2 separate regions of the Homo sapiens genome follow, and region 2 is linked to region 1. A link means that fine-mapping ties the variant in region 1 to the expression of a gene that starts in the linked region. Tissue or cell type: cerebellar hemisphere. Region 1 holds a variant in brackets; the other region holds the start of a gene. All regions are shown on one strand. Distances are from middle to middle.

What was found. PIP is the estimated chance that this variant, and not a neighbour inherited with it, causes the effect.
Region 2: GALNT10 starts here. The variant in region 1 is fine-mapped to the expression of GALNT10 in cerebellar hemisphere (GTEx, PIP above 0.99). The same link has a PIP of 0.9 or more in cerebellum.

What each region holds. Positions count from the first base shown.
Region 1 is chr5:154,283,059-154,293,104 of GRCh38, reverse strand. The region is part of intron 1 of GALNT10 (polypeptide N-acetylgalactosaminyltransferase 10); the gene reads right to left. Among named protein-coding and RNA genes, the nearest start is that of MIR1294, 59 kb to the left of the region's middle. RefSeq lists a silencer at 7,122-7,416. The variant T/C (reference allele first, on the strand shown) is at 4,878.
Region 2 is chr5:154,185,487-154,195,532 of GRCh38, reverse strand. GALNT10 (polypeptide N-acetylgalactosaminyltransferase 10) reads right to left here and starts at 4,800. Exons shown (of 12, transcript NM_198321.4): 1 at 4,508-4,800. The coding sequence starts at 4,666. LOC124901118 (a long non-coding RNA gene) reads left to right here and starts at 5,454. Exons shown (of 2, transcript XR_007059010.1): 1 at 5,454-5,537. RefSeq lists silencers at 4,505-4,564, 4,635-4,714, 4,805-4,914, 4,925-5,024, 5,115-5,204 and an enhancer at 5,425-6,390.

The DNA of each region.
Region 1 (10,046 bases):
TCTTTATAACAGCTCTAGTAATAATAACAATCCTTTGTATTCTTTCTCCTATAGACCTCTCTGAATTGCAAGAAGATAATTCTGAAAGTTGGTGTGCTAGATGTCTTGGTTAGAGAGGGGAAAAAAAAACTACAAAAACTAAGGCGGCATGCTTTCAACAGTTCTCAGCATTCTTAGAAATCACAGAAGCTGAGCTGGAAGGTCCTTATGGAACCATCTAATCAGTTCAGGATACAGTTCTACAGGAGGGGACCCCGGCACTGCCTTGGGAAGAGGAAGGCAGAGAGTAGGGGCTTGCTCTGCCTGCTCTTCAATCAGAGCAACAACACATCTGTTTTATGTACTGGGGTTCCATGTGGGATTTCATTTGAAGACAGCTCTTCTGCTAAAAATAAATAGATATCAAATTTCCTACACAAGCAAACAAATATATCTGGAAGCTGAGCTAGGACCACTTCCCTATACCACAGACAGAGAAACCAAGCCTTGGGGTAGGCCAGGAACCTGCCCAAGGTAATATTCTGCTTCTGTGATGTCAAGGTTGATCAGTTAGGGGCTAGTTAGCTCTCCTTTCTCCAGCCCTCCCTCCCAATCTCTTTTTCCTCTTCTGCTGCCCACAGATTGGAAACTTTGGTTGATTACTTCAGCCCTGGTGGGACTAGAGGCTCTGCAAACTGAGGATCTTTTAATGGAAGGCACAAAACTAAAGCCATGGTGTTCAAAGTGTTGTATCTGAAGAGGACAGGATGGGTGCCACCTGGGAACTTGCCAGAAATGCAAATTCCCAGGGTCTTACCCTAGACCTCTAGAAGCAGAAGCTCTGGGGATGGGGCCCAGCAATCCGTGTTTTAGCAAGCTCTCGAAGAGATTCTGATACACGCTGAGGTTTGAGAACTGCTGGTCTACAATGAAGCAGATGATAATCCTACCTGATCTGTGTTGTCACATCAAGTTGAGCAGATAATTATCATAGAAGGCTGCAAAACCCTGAGGCCCGTGGGCCAAATGTGGTCACTGGCAAACAACCTGGTGGCTTTCAAGGTGCTTTTCGTTTTGGTTTGGTTTTCTTAATTCTAGTGTGAAAATGGGGAGATTTCATATTGTTTTATCAAGATTTTTGGCTTCTCTTGAAAACCTAAAAGACATGCCAGTACTGGGCTGACTTCCCTCAGCTCATCAGCTGGGCTGTGTGGATGGGGCACGTCTCCCCAGTTTGCCACAGTCCCTACCATTCCTTATTGCATTTCACCTGCCTCCCATATCTCATTTTTGTTACCTGCCTGGCCCTGGTGAGCTTGAAACATGCTGGGATATTCAGGAATGTATCCTGGTTGGGAAAGATTAGAAACTATGAGGACTAGGAGATAAGAAGCCCTGGAGGACATGGGAGAAGTTATTTTGTTCCATGAAGTCCTAAGGCTACACTAAGGGCCAATGGTAGATGTTACTGAATGATTGAGGGGCCTCAGACAGAGAAGAAATTCCAAAAGTTGGGTCGCTGCTAGGATGAAATAAAACCATTTGGAAGAAGATATTAGAAGTGGCCAGGAATAGAAAGATTGAGTGTTCATCAGGATGTGAAGGAGAAGAATCAAGTGCAGGGTTGGGACTAGTGCTTCTCAAATTTTAATGTGCAGGAGAATCATGCATGGATCTTGTTAATGCTGATTCTGGCACAGTAGGTCTAGGGCGGGGCCTGAGATTCTGCATTTCTAACAAGAACCCAGGTGATGCTGACGCTGCTGGGCCAAAAAAGACACTTTGAGTAGCAAGGGTTAGGCAACCTTTAAAGGGCCCTTCAAGAGTCTAAGATTCCATGAAGGATACTATTTCCTCTACAAGCTTGTGAAAGTCTTCCAGTGCTACTGGGAATGGGGTACAGGGATAAATCTCACTGTTTTGACCTCACAGAAGTAAACCCCTAGAATCATGTTCTCAAAATGAAACACTGGATTGCTGAACTGATGGCATTGAGAATTAAGGCTCCAAAATCCTGGGAGTTTCATACCTAACTCCACTGCCTTTGCCTTATGATGCACACTGCTCCCTCTATCCCTCCCTCCCAGGGTCTGCAGAGATGAACTATGCTGTTTTAGGTCTCATTGGTCCTTATACCTTCCCTAAACCAGGAGGACTTTGGAGCCTGCTGACACAGGGAGTTCTACATGTCTAAGCACGCAGCTGCTAGAGTCCTCAGCCATCTGAGCTAAATAGCTGCTCAGAGACAATTAGTACACCTCCGCTCATCTTACAGATAAAGGAACTGAAGTCCAAACAAGCCAAGCTACCCAACCAAGGCCTCACAGCAGGCAAGAGGATAAAAACCATGTCCTTTGACTCCCAGGTTAGTTTTTAGTGGGAAAGAACCCTTGAGTGTGACCTTGCATGAGCTACAGGAGTCACAGGTACCTCAATTTTCCCACCTGGAAAATGGAGACAGCACTACCTGCCCAAAGGTACTTTCAGATGAACGGAGACAATCACAAACAGTATAGCCTGAGCGCTCTCCTAATTTACACATGGATTGAGGACACTGACTCCTTTAGGATTTTAAGAATCTACTGTAAATTGACATCTCACCAAATCATGTAGATATAAAACTCAAATTTTATTGTATAGGTTAAAAAGTATCCCAGTTATAGGTCTGGGCCTTCAGTAGGGTGGAAAACTAGTTTCAGTCTTAAAATTATAGAGTTGGTCAGGTGTGGTGGCTTACGCCTGTAATCCCAATACTTTGGAAGGCTGAGGTGGGCGGATCACTTGAGGTCAGTTTGAGACCAGCCTGGCCAACATGGTGAAACCGTGTCTCTACTAAAAATACAAAAAAAAAAAAAAAAAAAAAAAAATTAGCTGAGTGTCATGGCACACACCTATAATCCCAGCTATTTGGGAGGCTGAGGCAGTAGAATCACTTGAACTCAGGAAGCAGAGGTTGTGGTGAGCCGCGATTGTGCAACTGCACTCCAGCCTGGGCAACAGAGTGAGACTCCGTCTCAAAAAAAAAAAAAAAAAATTACAGAGTACATGGAGCCTGAAGGGCCCTAAGAATCCTATCCAAAAACCTTAATGGAAATTGTGGTCAATTTCAGGTGGTTTAGGAGCCTCTGAGGACAATCCATGGAATTTCTAGAGATAGTGCAGATTAAGAAACCCCAGATCATCTAAACTATCACCAAATGTTTACTGACACCTACTCTGTACAAAGCAGTGTGTCAGGCACCAGGGATTCAGGTTTGACAGCACAGATACTGTGTAGGCCTAATGAGGTTTACAGAAAGATCAGTCTCTTTCAAAAGGTGGTTCTTGGAGAACCTGGGCCCTTATTATAGATGCAAATTCCTGGACTCACACCCTGAACCTACTAAGTAAAAATGTCTACAGATAGGAGCCCAGGAAGATACCTTTTTTAGAAAACACATTCTCCATGTGATTCTAATTCACAATAAAGTTGGAAGACCTTTGGTCTAAATCTAGCTGCCTCATTTTACAGATACGAAATCTGAGGCTAACAGAGTAGAATGGACTTGCCCTAAATCCTACAGCTTGTCAGCCCCAAGGACCAAACCAGAGCTTGCAGTTCTCTCCCTGGAATAGACTGTAAGCTTCTTGAAGGCAGGGGCATTACACCACTGCACTTTCCTAGGCCAATACCTGACTAATCTTAGGCCCTTGAAAAATACCAGCTGAATGAATGAATGAATGCTCATCAATGGGAAAGGTAGTCTAGTTTAATGACTTGGAACATTCTGGTTCCAGAGTTAGGAAAACCTAGGTTTTACTTCCTGGGCAGGTGGAGCCCAATTTCCCTGACTGATAAATAGAGAAAACTAACAGAATAAGAGTATCTGTTGGGAGGATTAACTGAGCTAATCCGGGACAAAGTGTCCCAGTGTCTGGGACAAAGTTAGGTCCTCTCCTAGTAAAGGTGAGCAACTATGAATACATTATTTTTAGGGAAAGTTTATGAAAACACGGTATGTTCCAGTGTTTGTGATAACCATGTTTGGAGGAATAGGAGAGCGAACAGGAAACTAATAAGGAAAACTGTGGGTCCTGCAGAGGCAACCTATCTACCACCTGATTCAATTCAACTGGCTCTTGCTGATAACAGGATTTAGAATTTCCTCATTAACAGGATGTCATATGCCCACATCGAAACACAGTGTTCTTCAAGGAAAGAAAAAAGTCTTAGTTAATAGTGGCATTCTACAATAGAAACAAATGCCACAAGACCATTAACAACAGAAAAGGCAGGAACATTGCTTCTCAAAAGACAGCAATTATGCAATAGCAATCACTTAATATTATGTAAAAGATCACGTCTGGATTTTTCAATCCAGAGGTAATTTTAAGTTTCTTTAATTCTGTAAGCTCAAAGATTTGTCTACAAAAGCTGTAATTATTTTCCTTCAACAACCATCTTTTGCTACTTTGCTTTCTCTTGGTTTCCAGATGTCCTTCTGCTACAGGAAGCAAAGGGGTTAGGAAGGAACATGGCAAGAAGTGAGGGAGAGTGTGTGGAGGAGACTGGCAGAATCAATGTGGAAATCACATTAAATAATAAATTGGCAATGGATTTTGACTGGCTGCTCTAAATAACTGCTTCTGGTATCTGCATGCTTTTACTTAACATTCCACTAAAAGAATCGATTAGTGTTCAAACACACACACACACACACACACACACACACACACAAATGGAATTTTAATCTTTGTTTAATCACTATTTAGCAGGCCTGGCAGCCTTTGGAGGTAGGAAAGAATGGTGGTGAAGCAAGCCAACTACATTCTGCTCAAGAAGGAAGATTTGTTAAAGTGCATACTCTAATCCCAAGACTGCAGACTTGGCAAAGAGCATCTCTGGCTGAGCTGGCTAG[T/C]GTCTTCAAAACAAGGAAAGGGCTGTATGCGCTCAAACAGCAATGTTGGAAGGAAAGCTGAGCAGGTCATCTGCTTCATCCACAGTCTGAGGCTGTGTTAGAGACCAGGCTCTGCTGCAAATTTTAGGATGGCTCCCCTCCACCTTCCTCTCAAAGAACCCTACAAAGGCAATGAAATGATTTTGCTTTGAGGTTTAAATAACTATATCATTTCAAACATCTGTTTATCTACCAAGTAGATTAATAAACTTCTCTCTCTCTCTCTCTCACACACACACACATGCACACACATGCACACTCTCTCTCTCTCTCTCACACACACACACACACACACACAGCAAAGCAATTTCTTCAAGATTACCTTCAAAGAGGACCAGGTAGGGCTTAATTTAGCTCAAAGCATATAAAGTTTAAACAAGGGAGTTTGGACAATTAGATAAATGTACTTTCTTCATGAGTTTTGAGGACATAAGCTGGATTGTTTTTATTAATTCATTCATCCAAACAATGATTATTGAGGGCCTACTATGGCCAAAGACCTCTGGGAGAGACAAAGATGAACAAGGTAGTCCATGGCCTCCACAAACAGCTATGAGACAAGTATTTAAGGAAGGAAAACACACATACACACATACAAGCCTATAACATAGTGCCTTGAAAGCTGTACAGATAAATTCGATAGATATTTACAAAAGCCAAAAATTAAATTCTACCTGGGACGATCGGGGAAGAATTCCTGCAGAAGCAGAGTCTTTGACAGGAACCTGAGAGAAGGGGTAGGATTTTAACTGGTAGCAGTTGAGGGGTGGGGGTTGGGGGTGGAATCCAGCTAGAGGGAAAGTATGTGGAAAGAATGCGAGTTAGAAAGTGAAGGGCATATTTACTTAAGGGCAAGGAGCCTGATTTGGCTGGAGTGAGCAGGATGCAAAAGTGAGTCACGAGCAATAAGACCAGGAAGGAAGTCTGGACCAGAATTGGAGGGCCTTACATTTGAGCTGCTTGGCAGGTGGGCAGCCACAGTAAGCCTTTGAGCAAGGAACAGGCTGAAGTAGAACTCCAAGAATAAAATACGTTACTACCTTTCCACTTTCAATTAATCTCAGAATCCTCCTCCTCCCATGAGAAATGCAAGGAGAAAGATGATTTTGTTTTCATTCAGAGAAAATGTCCCCTTTTCATAGGCTGAGGATCATTCATTCTGGTACCCCACAGTCAGACTTAAGTGAGGCTGACCTAACCCTAGCACCTATTCAGTAGGCTGCTGTTTTGAGAAAACTTAACTTTCACTATAACCAGGACCAAGCTGTATGAGAAAACAATCAAACCTGAATGGCACTATTTATGAATGGAAGGAGGCATTACAACCCAGCAACCACGAGTCTATGTCTGCTGGGCCCACGTCAGGCAAGTCCTGCTGTTCCAATCAGCAATGGGGCTGTGTCTGTTGTCCCCACTCCAGTAACTCCATTGTCTCAACACCAGGATGCTGAAATCTGAAATCTGGCCCTTCTCTAAGAGGGGAAGGTCACTCACAGATAGGAGCCATTGTTTCAAAGGGCTGATCCTGTGTTTCCAAGGGCAGAACCATATCAACCCTCCAATTCCTTTGTTTGGTGTAGGTGGCTCTAGAAAAGGTCATTTGCTACGTAAGGCATGAAAGCTCATTAAAAGATTTTTTAAACAGCAGGGAGAAAAAAAAGCCAAGATACTTTGGAATGTCTGTTATCTAAAGGGCAAATAGAACCTTCAGTAGCTTTTCCCTTCCATTCTAAAAGAACAATTTCAACACTTTCTTCAGGATAAGTGCCCAAATGTTTTATCACTGGGAAAAAAAAAAAAAAACAAATCGACTCTGATCAATAATTTGATAATGTTCATCTGAGTCTCTTACCTATCAATCCATCTGTCCATCTGTCTGTCTGTCCATCTGTCCATCAACTTAAGTGTATGATGAACACAAGCACAAATCAAGCCTTGTGCTAGGTGCTGAGGATATACTGGTGAGGAAGACGGACGGGGTCCTACTCTCATAGAGCTTATAGAAGTATGTGTGGTGGTGGGGAAATGTAGACTTTCATCCGAAACTACAGGTAAATTAAAAAAGCTACAGTGGCAGGCCATAAAAGAGGGGTACATGGTACAAAGATAGTCCCTTTCTTTCAGATCAGACTGGGGGGATCTGATCCAGCCTGCAAGGTTTTCTTGAGAAAATTGGATTACAGGTTAACTCAGTAGAAAGAGGAGTACACAGCATTCCAGACAGAGGGAAAAGTAAAGATATGCAAAGATTCTGTGGCTGAGCAAACATGAATCATAGGAGGGCCTGGAAGAGCAGTGTGTGTGGTGCACAGAGAAGCAGGGAAAGTCTGGTAGGAATGAGAGGTGGACAGGGGTGAGGATTCTGTCTTTCCTCCAGGAGCATTTAGAAATACAAGTGTTTTCTATAAGGAGGTGATAAGATCAGGTTGCATTTGGAAAGCTCTCTTGTAGCCAAGTGGAAAAGGGATTAGGAGGCCAAGAGGAGGGGTGGAGGCTGGGAAGGAGGCTATCACAGTGGTGCAGGCAGAGATGATGTTAGCTTATGCTGGGAAGGCAGAAGTAGGGGTGGGCACACACAGATTTTTTTTAAAAATAGGGTTACTAGGGTCCTGTGGGTTTGAGTCAAGAAATAGAGCCTGAGAACTTGGACAGTCAGGTGAGAAGTTCATCTGTAAGAGCTGGATATCAATAGTCCCACAGATGCAGGTGAAACCCACCTGGGACCTGAGCCCAGCTCTCCCCTCACCTAGCCTGGTGTCTGTGTCATCACATGTTACTTTTAAGTTTCAATACTGTCCATAGAAAGCAAGTCAGGAGATCAGACCTAATGAGATAGGATTTTATGTCTATTTCACCTTCAAGAATTCAGTGACACATAGTCAAGAAAGAAGAGAGAAATCCTACAAGGGTGGTGGTGAGCCTCCCGTGCTCATGCAGAGTGTGCCTTTGCCCTCACAGTGTCCCTGGAGGCCCCAGTTCTCTCTGGCCCCTGGAAGTGTGAGCGCTCTGTGCTGGGGGAGCCTACTCTAGGAAGATAAGTATTTTCATTACCTCAGAAGGCACTGTGATTACTTCAACCAAAGAAACAGTTATCACTGGTGTTCAAGCTGGATTTAAAACTGCCCACACTGGACTTTTGAGAGGTGGTGTGTCTTCATATTCCATGAGCGATTGTCAAGGGTGATTCTGATTTTGTGTTATTTTCACCTTAAGTGGTGGGTTTATTATAGCCTAACTCTTTCATGAGATTAGACTTGACTATATTATTATCGTCATTATATCCACTTTGTAGATGACAAAACTGAGGCTTGGAGAGAAAATCGATATGAAAGCGTTTTGCAAACTGCCAACCACCACATGAGTGTAATCATCACAGCTAATAGCACCTACCACATGTACCTGCCCATTCCTTCCCAAACTCAGTATCTAGAAAGGCTGCAGGAACATAGCCCTCAAATATGGAAAACGTGCTGAGATGAATCATACTTCTGTACCAAGAGGGCAATTCACAAGAGGTTTTGAAAATCTCAGTCTAGCTGATGTGTGATCAATCACAGGAAAGCCCCTAGAAAGTGCTCTTCTTAGAGGCTTGACGGGCTGGGCAGGAGCAAGGGCTGCAATATTGCTCTGCACAGCAGCTGTGGATGGGTAAAAAGAAAAAAAGGAACTGGAAAGCTCATCAGAAGGCAAGTTCCTACTTTTCAGAGAGAGACTAAAAAATGACTGCAAACACATCCTATTAATCTCCTAGCTGGGTAAGTAGGGTTGAGCCACGCAGTAATAAAGTACTTGCTCTAATAATAGTAATAATTATAATCATAATCCCCTACATTCTGAAGACAGCAGACCAAAGTGAAGAAGACCATCTGCTTTGGCATCAGAAATGCCTAGGCTTGTGCCACAGTTCTGTTTATTAGCTCTGTGATCTTGGGCAAGTTACGCTATTTTCACAAGCCTTGGTTTCCCAACTGTAAAATGGGGGAAATTAATAGTACCTAGCATAAAGGTTATTATGAGGATTAAATGAGATGCAGCAAGTATAGCTCTTAGCAGTGTTTGGTATCTAGAAAGCACTAGCAATGCTAGCTACCATTATTAGTTACTATTTGGTAGTATTTTATAATTTACAAAGCATTTTTATATTTATGTCCCATTCCTTCCTCTCAGTTGCACCAGGGTAAAAGCAGACATCACCAACCTATTGTAATATCCTTCCTTGTGGATCCCAGACTTTGAGAATCTTTCTCAACACTGTGCTCCAAGCAGCGCTTACCCATCAGCTGGCATTGGTCAGGGGACAGGACCCATCTGCCACAGCTGCCTTAAGCTGGAAGAGTGAATTTCCAAGTACACCTGGTAGACAATGACCCACTGGTTGATTTCCACAATCTTGGCTCTTTGGGCTGGCTGGCTGCTCACTGCTTGCAAAGGTCCCCCAAGAGGGGGAGAGGGGTAGGGGCATGGGGAAGCAACATGTGACTGATGGTAGTCCCCTCCTCTTTGGACTCCTTCCTGGCCCAGGAGGAAAGTCTCTGCCTGGACAATGATGTTGGCCTCCTCCATCTCCCATCTTGGAAACTGAGAACTCTCTGAACTCTTCTTCTTTGTTTCTCTTAGGGTGGAGGCCACAAAAGGCTCTGAATCTCCTGGGCAGCACCCAGCCCCTTACCTATCCCACCTCACTCTCACTCTGTCACTCTGGTATTCTTGTTTTTATTTATTTATTTTTTTTAAGAGATAGGATCTTGCTCTGCTGCCCAGGCTGGCTTGCAGTAGCATGATGATAGCTCACTGCAGCTCCAGCCTTGACCTCCTGGGCTCAAGCAATCCTCCTGCCTCAGCCTCCCAAGAAACTAAGACTACAGGTACATGCACCACCACACCTGGCTTTTTTTTTTTTTTTTTTTTTTACAGACGAGGTCTTATTATGTTGCCCAGGTTGGTCTCAACCTCCTGGCCTTAGGTGATCGTCCCACCTGGGACTCCCAAAGTGCTGAGATTACAGGCGTGAGCCATCATGCCCAGCCTCTCTTGTTCTTATATAACGATTTCTTAGATATATGGTGTCCCAGGCAGGATGTGTGAGGTGCAACCACAAGAGAGCACAAAGGACAGTCTTCCCAGACCACA
Region 2 (10,046 bases), 98 kb after region 1:
CCAAGAGCCAAATCTTGTGCTTTGTGCTAGAGGAGGATGTGTTCCTACCTTAAGACATTTCCAGCAGGGAGGCCATGATACACTTCTTGCTGCGGGAATTCAGGTGTATATGCGCTACCTCCTTTCCCCACTCCACTGCGCATGAGGAGAAAGGTTCTCTGGAGAAACAAGACTCTTATTCAAGGCCTTCCCTTACCAGTTCTGACACATATATGGGATGCAGAGGGTCAGATATATGTAAAACACGAAACCTCTGCAAACACCGTCAGGAGCATTTAGCTGCCATGGGGCTTACTTGTAGCTGCCAGGTTTGCCTCAAGGTGCTTTTGATTCAGTGAGGAGATCCTGATGCCATCTCTGTGTAAGAGCTGACTGTGGACAAGGTACAATTAGCAAGCTAGATGGTTATCTTTTAAATGGGCTTTTGCTTTTCATTCCTGATTCCGTTATCTGTTACCGTGTCACTGGAACCAACAGATCAAAGGCTGAACATCCTTAGACTACAGCCTGAGAAAAGACATTCAAATATGAACATACCCTTAAGTTGTGGCCTCATTACAAGTTAGATACAGAGGCCTGTTTAAATATACTATCACTATTCAGATGTGTTTCCAAGCATACTCACAGAACCTCAGGATGTAAGAGTTGGAAAAGCCCTAACACAGTATCTATTCCCTACATTGCTAATGAGTTTCCATATGTCGTTAACTCTACTTGAGTAGCCCTGCTGAGAAACAGTCTGAGCCCAAGTCTGGTATTAGTAATGAAAAGGTTGATTAGCAATGTCTGCCCTGGCCATGGGAGGGGAAGCATCGTTACAATATGCATTTGCCTTTTCCCTTCTGAATCTAAGCCTCACTTAGCAGATGAGGAATCCAAGGCCCAGAGAGGTTAAACCTCTTTCCTGAGGACACACAGTGAGTTTAGGGCAGGAGAAAGGACTAAAAGCCAGGTCTCTGTTCCCAGGCCTTCCTCAGCTGGACTCCTTGGTAGACAGCAAGCCAAGAATGACAGAAAGAATGTAGGGAGCCGGATTTGTTCTGGCAAATCAACAACCCTTCCCTAGTGGCATCAGATTTCACCTGGGCATGCAGACAGAGGAGTGATTAGCAAGCTAAAGGATACTAGCCCTTCTGTGGAAAATTAAGGAAATCGTTCCAAGGCTACATTTCTATACTTAACTTTCTGATGGGCAAGGCTTCTGCCACCAGGAAGACTGAAAAAAGAGAAAAAAACATTGATTTCTGGATGTTCTAAGAATAAAGTTCAGCTCTAACACAATGAGAAAGAAATCCTGATACTTGAAAATTAAAGTCACCGGTATTCCATTATTCCACCAATTTCTATTCCACATATGCTATTTATCCAGTGAAGTCATTTTTCAACAAGAGATTATGGCTCAGAAATGAGGAGAGACTGCACTGAGTTTCTAACTTGAGCTTTTAATAACCTGTCCCAAACCTGGAATATGAAACAGACTGTTGAATTAAACCAAGATGTTAAACAGATTGGGGCTTGGAATGAGAGGGACCCACAAATTAAAAGGAAGATGTCTTCAAGGCTGGCATTTCTTGCTTGGTTTTGCAGCTTCCCAAGAAGCCAACTGTCTGACCAGATGACTGCTGAAATCCTAGAAGCATTATGTGTCCTTTATAAATCAGCTATCCCACCCAGCTCCAGAGGTACTCCCAGGATGAGCTGGCATGAGTTATGTAGACTTTCATTCTAGCAGATGATAAACACTATAAATTTGAAACTCCGTTCTTTAATCCAGTGGAGAAATCAAGGAGTTAGAGGACTACTCAAGTAGTGGATATGTTACTCTCAAAGAATCTTCTTTCAAACCCATATGGAACACATTTTTCATTTGGATAAAGTCCTGTCAGACTTCCCTCCAGAGCCTCTGCAGTTATTTCTACCAGAAGGATCAACGAGATGCTCAAAGATGATTCTCAACAATTACAAGAATGACAGGCTGAGCTCAGAACTGGTCAGCCCTGTTGAAAAAGCTCTGTATGCTCAAGATGCCAGATTTCCCAGATAGCAGCCTGGCATGTTACATGTATGTTCCAGTACACTGGGATGAGGGATGGAACACCATCACTCTGAGAAGTCAGCCTCTTTCCTCAAGGCCAGCTGACATTCAAACAACGGACTGGGGGCCAAGCCCAGTGCTCTGCATCTGTGGGAGAGTGAAACAAAAAGGGGCTGTGTGGAAATTTGGCAGGGCGTTCTTGAAAGGCAGCAGATGAATGCTGAATCCTGTAGCACCTAGAAGAGCTTATCATTGGGGAAACAGCTCCATTCTGCTGCTCCCATGAAGCAAAGAGATTTTCTTTAAAGCAAGAATAATCAGTTGGTATTCCCCCCAAACCCCCAAACCCCCTTCACCACTTCTTCCTCCTCCTCTTCATGCTATTCCAGAGAAAAAGAAATGAACAAAAACTAGATCTTCCCAGATGAGCCTGTCTATCCATTTCAGTTAGGGGCTCTGAGCAGCACCCAGCTGTTGCTCCCCTCTCTCTCCCTGCCCAAAAGTCTGCCTTACTCTATCAATACCCTCTTGCACAAGTGAGTAATTTACTTTGAAAGCTCAGGCCAAACTGGCAGTTAACCTTGACCTTCTCTACCCATCTGGGTCTACAGAAATGAAAATCAGGATGTCTTTGGCATCTATTGCAAATGAAATACGAGGTCTTTCTCCAAGCAGAGGCAGAATGTCAAGCACTATTTTAGAATGGGCTACAGCTATTCTAAAGGAGAGTTTGCACTAGGGTAGGACACTCCCCCTTGACCTGGAGCTGTGTCCAGTATGGAGCCTCCACAGCTAGGGATGCTACAAGGAACTCTGGACTCAAGACAGAAAAAAAGAAGGGACCGTTGTATTCCTCATTGATTAACTGATAGTATCACAGAATGTTAGAACTGGACCAATAATCATGGTTTACAGACCAAGAAAGTAAGGCTCAGAAAAGGAGATGAAAGGTGATCAAGGACACACACAGTAAGTTAGTGGTAGAGCTGAGGTCAGAACCCTGGAACTCCTGACTCTGATGCTGGTACTGAATAGGAACAGAGGAAAGAGATTTCATGAACGGAAAATCCATACAGATACAGAATTTCAGGGAGAGAGGTCTAAGCTAGCTGTCAGGGTTTGAACCAGGGGTTTAGGAAAGAGATGGAAACCTTAGTTTCTAAACAGTAAGCTCTACCAGAAAGATCAATGAGACCCTCTGGGATGCTTTGCAGCAATTAACAGAGTTACAGGCGGAGCTCAAATTGGTCAGCTCTGTAGCAAAGAGCCCTCTGTGCTCCAGATGCCAGACTGCCTAGACAGCAGCCTGATACTGGGAAGAATAAGGAAAACCATCAATCTCAGAAAAGCCAGCCTCTTTCGTCGAGGCCAGCCAACAGTCAGTCAAGTCTGACCCTGATACACAAATTATCCACTTCTCATGGGACCAGAGAAATCCCGTAAGAAAGCCTGAAATGTTCCACTATATGAAACAGTCTAAGCAATACACTCACTAGCACCTCCTGGGAGGGTGGGAGTGATGTGACAGAGCTTCTGCTATGAGGGAGCTGCTAGTCTAAATGCGTGCACGCACACATACACACAAACATACGTGGGTAAGTTCAAAGGAGGCAGAAACCATTCCGATCCCAGTTTTGGCTGCAATAAACACTACAACTAACCAGACTAGACAAGTTCAGAAGAGATAGGGAAGGCTTCTGGTGTTCCATCCTCAGGACACTGGGCACCAATAGCCTCTGGGACATTTTGGGGGTCCCCCCACCAGAGCCCCACCTCTGGACTCCCATAAGGTCAAAGGCAGCAGGTCCCTCAAGGACCAGGAGCTTACCCCCTTCTCCACCCCCAGGGGCTTGAAGCTTTAAAGGGAGCATGATCTTTACATTCTGCAAGGAATCCACAGGATCTGAGAAAGGAAAAGGCTAGAGTTGGGGCGGGGGTGTTGAATAAATGGGGAGAGGAGGAAGGCCCGGGTGTCTCGTTGGGCAGATGAGAAATCAGGAAAAGGGCTGACCTGAGCAAAGAACACTGGGATCAGCAGGTAGGGGTTGTGGGGGGGGGGGGGTGGGAGGAGGGAAGCAGAGAGGACCTGGACACCAAATAGAAGAACCAGAATCTTCATTCCTATTGGCACAAGGCAGGAGTCATCCTGGGATACAGGGATGCAGATAGGATCCTTCAAAAGAGATCCGCTGGAAGACGTCAAGGAATACCAGACGGGGACAGAAAGGAAGGTGGTAACATGTGGTGAGAAATAGCGTCCTGAGTGCTAGTTCGGACTCAGTCTCTGACTGGCGTGGGACCCTGGACAAGTCCCGACAGGACTTAATTTTCCCATCCGGAAAATGGGAAGAGCTGAAGAGTCTCGGAGCTGACTCTGAGGAGGCAGACAGCAGAAGGTGGAGGAAGGAACCACAGGCTAAAAGTGAATTCGGGAAGGGGGTGTTCCCGGCCTGTAGCAACGGGGGGACTCACCTGTCCCGCCGCCGGCGCCACCGCCGCCCCCGATCCCCCAGGGGTGCCGTCGGGCTGCCGCTCGCGGTACAGCGCCCAAAGCCCCACGTTGGGCAGGAGGACCAGGGCCGCCAGCACCAGCGCCACCGCCTGCAGGAGCCGCTTCTCCTTCCGCCTCATCGGGGCCGGTCAGCCCCGCCGCGCCCCGCCGGCCCCGCCGCGCCGCCCCCAGCTCCGCGCGTCCGCCCGTCCGCCCGGCGGCGGCAGCAGCTCAGCCAGCAGAAGCGGCTGCGGCGCCGGCCCCGCTCCAACTCCGCGGCACTTCCGCCGCTCGCCGGCCGGGGAGCTGGGCGCCGCCACCACGCCGCCGCCACGAGGGGGTCGTCGCCGCCGCCACCGCCCCCGGGCCCCGCCGAGCCGCCCGCCCCGCGCCGCCTGCCCCCGCGTCGACCGCCGAGTCTCTGCGCTGCAGGCTCGGCCCTCTCACGGAGCGTCTCGGCCCGCCCGGGCGCTGCAGGATGCCGGGCCGGAGCGCTTCCCCCCTCTCGAGCCGCGATGGTCCGTCCCACTCCTCGGCGGCTCCCCCGCCCTCTGGAGCTTTGCGAAAGTCCCGGAGTTGGCGAGTTGGGCGCTAACTGGTGCGGGCTGGGCACCGCTGGGTGGGGTGCATGTCCGCTCGCCCGGGTACCCTGCCGCCCCGCCCGGCAACCTCCGCCCGGGACTGCAGCCGAACCTTTGCTGCCTCCCTGGGGATATGCAAATAGTGCTGGGGCCCCGCCGGGCGTTCTGAGCCTGGAGCCCCCGGGGCTGTCACTTCCAGCCCACCTAGGCTCGGCCCCCAGGACCTGCGGACCTACTTTGACCCCGGCGACTCGGTGTTCCCGGCCATGAAACGGGGCCACAGCCGTGCTGCACGCTCACTGTTCCGCGGGCGGGCCCTGGTTTTCTTCCTCTAGGGGGGCCCTGGCGTTAGGTGTGAACGCCCTCTGCAAACTGTAGGGAGCTGTGCCCGGCCGCCGCCCGTCTGTAGATCCTGCAAACCGGCGGGTGGGTAAGTGACGGTAGCCTCTCTGCAGCACCTTTCCTCACGCAAGTCCAACCCCCTTGGAGTTAGAATGCCCTGCATTCTCACGCGTGCTTTTGGATCCTAAGCGCACTGAGCCCTTCCCGGAAAGCTCTCAGCAAACCGTTGGCGAGCGCCACTATGTGCCAAACACTGTGCCAGGCTCTGGGATGAAATGAAAACAGACCTGAGCCCTGACGTCTGGGAGCTGAAACATGAAACACGTAATTTCACTAGACCAGGCAATGTGTCTGTAACTGTGGCGAGGGCTTTGACAGAGGAGTCGGGCTTCTGGGCGATGCGGAGGGCCGTGGAGCCGGACTCCGACGGTGATGCCAGCCAGCGGCTCCTCCTCGGGGCGCTCGACGCTGGTCACTTAGCTGCCTCCTCCCTGATGCGGTGGAACGGAGCACCCCCTTGGCTACCTTACTCTCTGCCACCCCCACATTCGTCCTCTTGATTCTCTGCTTCTCTAGCTCAGCCGCTGACCTTCGTGCCTAGCTGCCACTAGTCCTTGACCAGCGTTCTGGCAACTCTTGCCTCCAAGTTCTTCCAGCTCCAGGCTGAGCGATGGGGATTCAGTTTTCTGACATCACAGCTCAGTTCTTGATTTCTGCAGCAAAACCTTCAAGGCTTCCATCACCTCGGCTCTAGAGTCCATCATGCTCCTCTCCTATGACCTGCTAGGGCTGATCAAACGTTCTGTCTCCTGCCGTGCCCTGCCCTGCCCTGCCCTGAGCTTCGCTTAGCCTGTTGCAGGCTTTGTGTTTTCCTTCTTGTGCTGTTGACCACGCAGCTCCTTCTACCCATAAAACCCCCTTCTCTAGGTCGGTGGAAATCTTGTTCATCCTTCCGTGTCTAGTTAAACTGCCACCTCCTCCACGAAGCCTTCTAAAACTCCTCCTCAGGGAACTGTTTTCTTTCTTTAGATTTCCATCACAATAATGCTTACCTTTTATTGAGTGCTTACTCTATGTCAGGCAGCCCTTGAGATGCATTACCTCTTTAAATGCTCACAGTTACCCTGTGAGGTACATGCTTTTCTTATACCCATTGGCGAATGAGAGTCAGATTTAAAAATGCATGTAATCCCAGCACTTTGGGAGGCCAAGGCGGGCAGATCACGAGGTCAAGAGATCGAGACCATCCTGGCCAACATGGCGAAACCCTGTCTCTACTAAAAATACAAAAATTAGCTGGGCGTGGTGGCGGGCACCTGTAATCCCAGCTACTTGGGAGGCTGAGTCAGGAGAATCGCTTGAACCCAGGAAGCAGAGGTTGCAGTGAGCCGAGATCGTGCCACTGCACTCCAGCCTGGCAACAGAGCGAGACTCTATCTCAAAAAAATAAATAAATAAATAAATTAATTAATTAATTAAATAAATAAAAGAATGTGGCAGCCAGAATGATCTTGTTTTATCCAAGGTTAGATTGTATCGCCCCTCTGCTCAAATCCCTGTAGTGGCTTCCCACCTCTCATTAGGTTCCTAAGAAAGTACAGGACCCTACAAGCCCATATGTGATCAGCTCTCACTCCTTACTGTCCTTATTGTGCCCCAGTGACATTGGCTTCCTTGTTGTTCCTCAGAGCATCCCTCAGGCAGGCACAGTCCTGCCTCAGTACCTTTGCACCTGTTGTTACCTCTGCCTAGAATGGCCATTTTTCTATTTCTAGCTCCTAACTCTATGTCTTTTTTAAACACATTTTTTTGTGATAAACGTTTGTAAAACTGATCATTTGAACTATTTTAAAGTGTACAATTCAGCGGCATTATGTAAATGCACATTGTTCTGCAGCCATCACGGCTATCTATCTCCAGAACTGGTCATCAACCCAACTGAAACTCTGTACCCATTAAACACTAACTCCCTATTACCCTCTCCCCACAACTGCTGGCAACTACCCACCATTCTACTTTATCCTTTTTGAATTTGACTATTCTAGGTACCTCATGTAAGTGGAATCATATCATATTAGTTCTTTTGTTTCCAGTTTATTTCACTCATAATATTTTTTAGATTCACCCATGTTGTAACATGTATCTGAGTTTCATTCCTTTTTTTTTTTTTTTTTTGACAGTGTCTTATTATGTTGCCCAGGCAGGTGTGCAGTGGTGCAGTCACTGGTGCAGTCATAGGATTATAGCTGGTTGTAGCCTCAAACTCCTGGGCTCAAGCCACCCTCCCACCTCAGCCTCCTAAGTAGCTAGAACTACAGGCCCATGCCACCACACCCAGCTGATTTTTTAAAAATCTTTTGTGGAGACCGGGTCTAGCTATGTTTCCCAGGCTGGTCTCAAACTCCTGGCCTCAAATGATCCTCCCACCTTGGCCTCCCAAAGTGCTGGTATTACAGGTGTGAGCCACTACGCTCAGCCAAATTCCATTCCTGTTTTCAAGATTGAATACTATTCCATTGTATGTATGCCACATTTTGTTTATTCATTCATCAGTAGATGGACATTTGGGTTCTTTCTACCTTTTGGCTACTGTGAATAATGTTGCTATGAATAGCCCTATGTCTTCTATACTGCAGTGGATACACAGTATTTATGTAATTAAATAATGTTGCAAAAAACTTTTAGGTGCCACTATAGCACTGAGCACAGTGCTGGTAACAGAGCAGCTAGAATGTTCTTTTTACACACACAAGGCTAACTCTGCTGCTGGGACTTGCCTATGGCTTCTCTTCATGTTAGAATATGTCTATGAAGCCAGGCATGGTGGCATGTGTCTGTAGTCCTGTCTACTCTGGAGGCTGAGGTGAGAGGATTGAGCCCAGGAGTTCAGGCTGCAGTGAGCTATGATCACAGAATTGCACTCCAGCCTGGGTAACAAAGCAAGACCAAGTCTCTCAAAACAAATAAACAGAAAACAACCTACAATCTATGAGAATCCTTACCACAGCCCATAAGGCCTTACATTATTTGACCCAACTTCTAATTTTTGCCTTCTTTCCTTCTCTTCTAGTTACACTGGTCTTGCTATGTTCCTCAAATGTATACCAAATTGATGATTCCCTCAGGGCCTTTGCAAATTTACTGTGCCCTTGTCTAGAAATCTCTTCCTCTACCCCTCTGCATGGTTCTCTCTCCGCCTTCTCTCAGGAACCAGATCAGGGGTCCTGCCTCAGAGAGAGCTTCCCTGACCAGCTGATCTAAGATATCAACTAGCACCACCACCATCTCCATTTGCTTGATTTTTCTCCAAAGCAGGTATCATTTTTGGTCTCCCTGTCTAGAATGTGAGTTCCAAACAGACAGGAACTTTGTATTTGCCTTCTATGGTGTTCCGTGCCTCTGTCAGCACATAAAGTCACGTACTGTTCAACAACATTTCAGTCAACAATGAACTGTATATACCAATGGTGTTCCCATAAGACTATAATACTCTATTTTTACTATACCTTTTCTATGTTTAGATATGCTGAAATACACAAATACCATTGTGTTACAATTGCCTACAGTATTCAGTACAGAAACATGCTGTACAGGTTTGTAACCTAGGAGCAATAGGCTATACCGTGTCGCCTAGATGTGTATTAGGCTATCCTATCAAAGTTTGTGCAAGTATGCTTTATGATGTTCTCTATGAGAAATCACCTATTGACACATTTCACAGAACGTATCCCCATCACTAAGCCATGCACAATTGTATTTCCCTTCATTGTGAATCAGAAAACTGGTGCTCCTTCCAGGCAGAAGAACTTACAGAAAGGATCCCCCCTCTCCTTGTGCTAAAGCAGCCAGAACAGAGCCAAGGTGTGTGGATTTCAACTCATATTCCCACCCAGCCACACAAACTAAGCTGTGGCCTTTCCTGGGTCTGGCACACAGTAGGTGTTCAATAAGCCCCTGTTGAGTGAAGTACTGTATAGCAGTGAAGATCAAGTACAGGAGGGAAGATACTCAGCATCTCTCTCCTTCCCATCCCCTCTTCTAGCTCCTTAGAAGATTCTGCACAAAATTGGATTTGAGCTTTTTCTCATGTCACTTGTTGATCAAAGCTGCATGCCAGCCCAGTCTGGCCCCAATGAGGACTCTAGCCCAAGAACCCAGCTTTAATCCAGGGACTCTTTGATCACTTTGTACAATATGGGATGCACCAGGCAGGGGGTGGGCTTCTGGGGCTTTATTCCGCTCGCTGAGACAATACCATTTGAGACATGGGCAGTCTGTTAGCTCTGGCTGGTTTCCTGGGAGAACTGATCTGGTCATTGACTGAAATTGAACAAAAAATGTTACTTTCAGACTGAGCCCTCTAGGCCTATTGTGGGCGTTAAATAAGATAATGTGCATAAAGGGCTTACCGTGCAGACCCTGGTCGAATGTAAGCACTAGTAGCTGGGTGAAATAAAAGCTCAACAACACAGGAGCGTTGAGAGGGATGAACAGAATTTCAGCTGTCAGGCAAAACCTTCTGCTCTGGCCTGTGCCTCTCTGCTCTCATCTCCTGTTACTCTCCTCATTCGCTCCAAAGCAGCCACACTCTCCTTCT